Linked DNA regions of Homo sapiens. The protein of the gene in region 2 purifies or fractionates together with the protein of the main gene of each other region. This does not show direct contact. Each region holds a gene or a part of one and is shown on either strand. Other genes may lie near its edges.

Region 1 (3,500 bases), on a different chromosome or scaffold from region 2:
AAACAGTTTATAAAGTCTTTTTTCATTATTCTTGGTCACAAAATTATAGACAATTTCAAAATTCTAGACTATTATTTGGCAGATTAAATAAACCATAAATAGCAAACATTTAGGGAATGTTTGTCTAAAATGTTCCATCTCTGGGTAATAAACTTACCTGCAGTATTGTTTTATAAGGATTACATATATTTTAAGGTTATTTCATCATTGAAAGAAGCAAGGTGCTACCTAATTCAACAACTTTGGGTAAGAATTTGCAAGGAAGGAGGAGGAAACAAGGGAAAAAAAATGGAACTGGGAAGAAATTTTGTTTTCTATCGTATGAAAGGATAATTCTTCATTAACAACAAAATCATACAAAAGCACTGCTAAAACTGTCATCAAAGTGCATCCCAAATTTCAATTGCAAAGTATCAAAAGTAATCATGAATCAGAAAACATATCCAAAATGATGAATATTGTATGAAAAACAAATAAGGGTAATTTTTTAAATGGAAGCACTAGCATCCCTTTCCTAATGATTCATTTACTATTTCTACATTCCATAAATTCTCATAATCTTATCAGAACAATTACAGACCTCATAATATGCACGGAGTCAATATTGGTTGTTACTGTCAATATCATACAATGAGAAGAGATTTTAATTTTAACACACTAGAACACTAGTAGCATTAAAAAGCCAAGACAGAAAAGGTTACCAATTCTAATAGTAGCTTTTCCTTTGTGACCACTTCCTAGAATTATAGTTCTCCTTTTCTGTTTAGCAGTTTTGGATGGTTCCTTCACTGATGGAGAAGTTATCCACTGGTACTAAAAGAGACAGAATAAACACTATATTTCAGTTACAGATCATTTATGAGGGCTACATCTTAAATGGAAATTGTTAAGATACTCTATGTTAATAAAAGGTTTGCAATCAGCAGTTCTGGGACCCAAAATTAAAGAATCATACGGTATTTACAAAAACAGAAAAGACATTTGATTTGACTGTAAATTTAAGATGGCAGAAAAGTGCCTTAATAGTTTCATTTTATTAAAAACAGACGAAAAGCTGGGCACAACGATATATACCTACAGTCCTAGCTACCTAGGAAGCTGGGAAGGGGGAAGATCACTGGAGCTCAGAAGTTTGAGGCCAGGCTGGGCAGTACAGTGAGATCCCAGAAGAAAAGCAATTAAATAAGAATTCTTTCTGGAGAAATAAAACATGATATACCTCTGATTTGGCACTCCTTCCATTCTGGAGGACTTTTTTGATAACTGCTTTCATCATAGAATGATCTAAAGTAAAATAAAAATTGAAATTATAGTAATTATTTCCCAATGAGTGGCTATTCCCATTTAAAAACAAAAGCCAACCAATTATTGCTTTTTCCCATGAAATTGAATATGAATTCCACATAATGTAATTAAATACCTTTTCCCCCTTTGAGTATTCTAACTTCTTCCTCAAAAACAAAGTATTCCTACACACATATTGTCCCTGATGGCTACTATTTTGGCAGCAGCAAAGATCAAATGTAAACACTTTGGAACTAAAGTAGCTTTAGATACCTCTAAATAGGAAATCAAAAGCCTAAACACTGTCCAGATACTTAGATGCTTAAAAGGCACCTAATATACCCAAATCAAAGTCATGATGCGCCCCCAAAGCTGCTCTTCTCCACAGCCTCCTTTTCTCTATAAACAGTACCACCCAGTTGTATGCAAAATCACCTAGGACTTTTTAAAAAAATTACTATTTCCTTTATACCCCACAAGTCTTGTTAGCTACACCTTGTTTCAACCACTTTTTACCACCTCCAACCTTCCACCCTAAGTGAAGCCATAGCCATCTCTAACTTGAACCAGTGTGAGTCTCCTAACTGGCCTCCCTCTTTCCCTTTTATAGCCCCCTACAAGTGTATTCTCCACACCAAGTCATCTGATTGAATTACTACTTGGAATATAACCCTTACCAGCTCAAAATCCTCCCATGGTTTTCAGCTCATTTAGAATTATCTAAGTCCTTACCGTGACCTTCAAACCTTACAAGATCAGGCCCCTGGCTAGTTGTCTGACTTTGTAGCATACCAGTCTCTTCATCACTCAGTGCCCCAACCATATTGGCCTTCTTGCTTTTCCTTAAATACTCCATCCACCCTGCCACCTATGTAACTACATATTCATTGCTTCCTCATCCTGGAAGGTACTTTATCTGCATCTTCCACGGCTTGTTCCCCTCCTAATCAGGTCTCTGTTCAAATGTCCCTTTTTCAGTGAAGCTGTCCCCTAAAAAACCTATCTAATATAGTCCCACCTGCCCCCATCTGTCTTCTTACCTTACGGTATTTTTGCACTTCCTACTATCTAAATTACATTACGTATAACTCCCCAACTAGAATGTAAGCTCTATGAGACCAAGAATTTGTCTAGCTGGTTTACTGCTGTATGTTTAGTGCTTAAACCAGTATCTAGCAGATAGAAGTATTCAAAAATTACTTGTCAAATCAACAAATGAATGAAATACTATTTCCAAGAATTCAGAAGTTCCACAAGAAGAAAATAATGCACTTGGTGGAAGCAGATTTATTATCTAGGTTCACTCCTATTCAGAGTAGCAGCCAAGAGCAATTTAAGTACAACTCTTTTCATCAGTAAATTATCTACTAAAAACATAAGAAAGTGCAAGATTACAAAAGTGTAAGATTAGGGAAGGAAACACATTAAGTTTTCAAAACTGTCAATACATGAGAAATTCTTTTTCTTTTGCTATTTGTTAGTCAATAAAAAATATTGTAGCGACATACCAATGAGTGGATTTTTTCTTATATCCAGAACGACCAGAGTTGTATTGGTTTCAAGGGCCTCTAGCAAAGCCTTTGCTCCTTCATTGGTGAGGCCGCACTGTTGCAGGTCAAGAGCTTTCGATGAAAGACAAAGGGTCACTTGCTAATTCTATACAGATTTTTTGTTTGTTTGTTTGTTTTTTTGAGACGGAGTCTCACTCTGTCACCCAGGCTGGAGTGCAGTGGCACTATCTCCGCTCACTGCAAGCTCTGCCTCCCAGGTTCACGCCATTCTCCTGCCTCAGCCACCTGAGTAGCTGGGACTACAGGCGCCCGCCACCACGCATGGCTAATTTTTTTGTATTTTTAGTAGAGACAGGGTTTCACCGTGTTAGCCAGGATGGTCTGGATCTCCTGACCTTGTGATCTGCCCACCTCGGCCTCCCAAAGTGCTGGGATTACAGGCGTGAGCCACCTCGCCCGGCCAATTCTATACAGATTTAACATACAGACAACTCCCACTTATTCATGCCTGGAAGACTCCTGCCCAAGACTACTCATGGCCAGTTTTTAATCTTGGGTATTGAAAAAATAAAAATAGAAAACCATATGCACACACATAATACAAAAAAGAAACCCTCTTCATAGATGTGTCATGATTACCCTCCCTTTAGTACCAATAAATTACCCAACATATTTTACAATTACAGAGTTGAAAAATAACTCTAC
Region 2 (4,176 bases):
CCCAGGCTGGAGTGCAATGGCACGATCTCGGCTCACTGCAACCTCAACCTCCCGGGTTCAAGCGTTTCTTCTGTCTCAGCCTCCTGAGTAGCTGGGATTACAGGGGCCCGCCACCATGCCCAGCTAATTTTTTGTATTTTTAGTAGACATGGGGTTTCACCATGTTGGCTAGGCTCCTGGTCTCCACCCGCCTCGGCCTCCCAAAGTGCTGGGATTACAGGTGTGAGCCACCGCGCCTGGCCTTATTCATAGCTTTTGAATACCTCTGATTGCATATAGCTACATCCTAACAGGGCCCTTCATCTTTATTGAGAATCTTTTTGTTCTCACAGAATCCATTGTAAGGATCTATCCCATGCCACAAAAAAGAAGGCGTGAAGAAAGCTGGTAGAGTTGAGATGCCCCCTTGGAAGATTAAGTATTCCAGATTATTGTTGAGAATATAAAAACAATAACCAAAGGAACGGTGCAAGATTTTAAATGCACACAAATACTTAGAAAAATACTCTCCTCTGGCATATCAGACAGAAAAACAAAACAAACAAATAAGCTGTAAAGAGTTAAGCCTTGAAGAAAGTGTAGATTCATTGCTATTAGGTGGTCTGTGTGAGTATTAAGTATGATTCATATTTTGAGGAAGTGAGATATTTTAAAATGAAGGAAAAAGAAGTCGATCAGGTTATTTCATCTTAATTCAGGAAATAATACATTTTTGAGACTTTTTTCATCAGTCCACTTTGGGGATGATTATTTGGAATAACTTGTATAAGACTCATGAGGCTGCTGCAGAAAGTGTTGTTTTTATGTCACTAGTGTATGCTGCATAAAAGCTCTTCTTTATACTTTCAACAATTATGTTACCATGAACATTCTTGACCTTTTAAGTATACCTCTGAATGTTTAGATTATAAACGTGAACTGTACTGTGTTATGTTAGACTATTTGACCAAAAACGTATTTTCTACCACAAAAAAAGTCCAAAAGGAATTAAGTTAATTACAACTTCAATTGTGTTCAAGATCGGTCTTTGTGGTTCTTTATATCTGTGATTTATATATCTTCAAAGAGAGTCTTAAGTGTCTTTGGGATTGTAATGGGCATTCTAGACTAAGAGGAGCTTGTTCAGACACAAGATTTGGGGCCAATGCTTTCAATGACTTCATAACCATTCCATCTTCTTTCTACTTCTGTGGATTACCCAACAGCAATAATGATAATCTGAGCCAGTTCCTGATACTTCTCTCTATAGTCAAGAGAAGGTCAGCTATTTTTTGATCCCCATGGGAGAAAGACAGCTCCTCAATCACTATCTTAAAATAGCCAGCAATTCTCAGCTGCTGGGCTGGAGTTCCTCCAGGGGCGAGCAAAGGGAATATGAATCTGCCGGTGGGGCGTGAGCGAGAAGCCACCAAAACATGAGCTAGGACAGCCTTCTCAAGAAGATTCTGCCAACTCAAAAATATTATTCTTTTTTTTTTTTTTTTGCTGTTGTTTCTGAGAAACTAGGTGTCTTACCATTTTAAAATTTCATATTTTATTTAAAAGGAAACCAGTGAATTGAAAATGAGACTAAATATCGCTATCTTCTTTGGAGCTCTCTTTGGTGCTTTGGGGGTGTTACTCTTTTTGGTGGCTTTTGGATCGGATTATTGGCTTCTTGCAACTGAAGTGGGGAGATGTTCAGGTGAAAAGAATGTGAGTCTCTTCTTCAAAATAGTGATGCACATGGTAGTTATGAAGATACCCTTATGTATGCTCTTGAAATCAGAGAATAGTAGTGGAGTGTCTATTTCTTCATGGAAGAGATATGTAGAAAGCTACTGAGCTTCATTATTTGGGATAAAATACATGTCCTTAAAAATTTACTGGCTGTAATGATTTTGATTATATTTCTTGTATTGATGGCAAGTTACTTCATTTTGTTCTGTGCAGATAGAGAACGTCACTTTTCACCATGAAGGGTTCTTCTGGAGGTGTTGGTTTAATGGGATTGTGGAAGAGAATGACTCCAATATTTGGAAGTTCTGGTACAGTAAGTACAATTTAGCTTTATTTTCCCTCTTGTCTGTAAAATAAAAATGAACAGTTTCTTACATAGTATATGTCACTTCTAGCGGACTGGATTGTGAGTTACAAAATCTCAATTAGATGTCTTTAAAAGGTTCATCATGTAGAGATTCCTTTTCAGTAAGTAGACATGGCTATAGGAATAATTATTTTATCTTTTAGCATAAAACAGGAGTCTGAATATTTATGGCAAAACTGAATTATCCATTGTTTCACTGCTCCTGTTTAGAATACACTAACTCTAACAAACAGGACAGGTATTGTCTATAGCATTTTTTCAAGTGTGTGAATACTATGTTGCAAATAAATAAGATTTTTTTGCTATCAGCCCTTGAAATCTCAAATGTAAAAATCCATAAATAGAGATGTATTATTTTATATTCATAACTTCAAAGTTAACAGTATATTTTTTTTAAAAAAATCATGGAACTTAATTACCAGCCATGGCAGATGAAAGCTTATATTATTTGAGCTTTAACCAAGTTTGTTGGCACTATCAAGAAGTGCCTTGCTTTTGATGTTTGTGTTCTCATTGAAACTTTAAAGTTCTTTTTTAAGGTAGCATAACTTTTAAAAACTATAATGCATTTGTTCAACTCTATTCTTTATATTGAATTAATCTTTGAAAATCAATTTATTGAAAATAGCTAGCGCTTATTTCATTGTATTCAACAATGAAAGGGCTGTTTATTAGCCTAAAGCTTATTGAGAATTGAAATTATTAGTCTTCTTATCAAAAATCAAAGTATGGTATTTACATAATAGTCAGGATTATGGAATATTTAATAAAAATAGGAGGTCCCTGAAGACTTAAGCAAGCTGGTGATAAGTTGGCATATATAAGGAACAAAGTAGTGATGAAGCAGCGTTTTGAGGCAAGTACCTGATAGACTATCTTACAGTGGATTTGGGGGCAGGAGAATAAGCATACAACTTGCCAGTGGAAATGGTTTAGACTTTAGTAAAGGGAAGTAAGTCAGACTGTGCAAGAGGAAGATTTTGCCAAAGACTTGGAGAAAGAAAGAATATTTCAATATTTCAGTCCACCTTAAAGTGTACATATAAAAATTTTAAGTTCTCAGACAACATAAAAGTGCCTTCTTGTGATGTTTTCAAATATTAAAAATTTATTTGAATTATTGTATAACTTATCATTTGCATTCTTCCCTAAAATAAAATGGATATAGAAGAATTTTTTTATTAATTTGAACTAATCAAGGTTAAACTTAAGTTTATTAGATTTTTAAAACAATTATTTTTTATTCCCTACTGTGTGCTAGACACTGTTGGGTACTGGAGAGTATGTGAAAAAAGATGAAATGTGGTACCTTAAATCGTAAGGTGATATAAAGGGCATTTGCATTTATTCCATTGAATTATGTCATGTAGCTAGATGTTCTGGATGAATCCACCTTCGTCTCATGTGCATCTTGATATGAGTTTCCTAGAAGGCCTTCCTCCTCACAACAATTCGCTGAATTTGCTGATGGAACCAGTAGTTTTGTTTTGCTTGTGTAACCCTTGTGCTCTGTATTTCTGTTCCATTAAGGATGAGTCATGACTGAGCTTTTCAATAACAAGTGCCATTGTTTTGCTGTTCTTCCTAGCCAATCAGCCACCGTCCAAGAACTGCACACATGCTTACCTGTCTCCGTACCCCTTCATGAGAGGCGAGCACAACTCGACCTCCTATGACTCTGCAGTTAGTAAGTACCCTCTGTCCTCAGCCTACTTCTAAAAGGGTCTTATCTTTCTGAAGGATGCCCAGATCAAAATTGTTGTGAGCAATTAAAAAAATAATTTAAGACCTGTAATTTCAATATTTTTGATATCTGTTAGATTAAAAAATGTTATTTTTAATGTGCCATTTATAATTTTAAAGAACATAACTTTGATCTAAAAGTAAAGTCATTGTAATTTACTAGCTGCCTATAAAAGTATTTTTAAATGTGTTTTCCCATATGAAGATAGTAATATTTATTAAGAAGAACCGCTTCTTAAGGTTTTAACAGACCTAAAACGAGTCCTACAGTTGAGAATATTGTAATATACATCATACTTCTAAAACTTTATGTCATCATTACACATGAGAATATCACAGATAAATAT

The links. The genes of interacting proteins can lie anywhere in the genome.
Region 1: the proteins of TMEM182 (region 2) and CEP78 purify together in Homo sapiens (affinity purification with mass spectrometry; one large-scale study listed by BioGRID and IntAct). This does not show direct contact.

What each region holds. Positions count from the first base shown.
Region 1 is NC_000009.12:78,246,075-78,249,574, reverse strand, and holds part of CEP78 (centrosomal protein of 78 kDa), read right to left. Parts: intron 2,907-3,500; coding exon 2,793-2,906; intron 1,285-2,792; coding exon 1,220-1,284; intron 814-1,219; coding exon 702-813; intron 1-701. UniProt on the Homo sapiens protein: Centriole wall protein that localizes to mature centrioles and regulates centriole and cilia biogenesis. Involved in centrosome duplication: required for efficient PLK4 centrosomal localization and PLK4-induced overduplication of centrioles.
Region 2 is NC_000002.12:102,760,655-102,764,830, forward strand, and holds the start of TMEM182 (transmembrane protein 182 isoform a precursor), read left to right. Parts: upstream 1-1,376; 5' UTR 1,377-1,563; coding exon 1,564-1,695; intron 1,696-1,932; coding exon 1,933-2,032; intron 2,033-3,674; coding exon 3,675-3,773; intron 3,774-4,176. UniProt on the Homo sapiens protein: Negatively regulates myogenesis and skeletal muscle regeneration via its association with ITGB1. Modulates ITGB1 activation by decreasing ITGB1-LAMB1 interaction and inhibiting ITGB1-mediated intracellular signaling during myogenesis.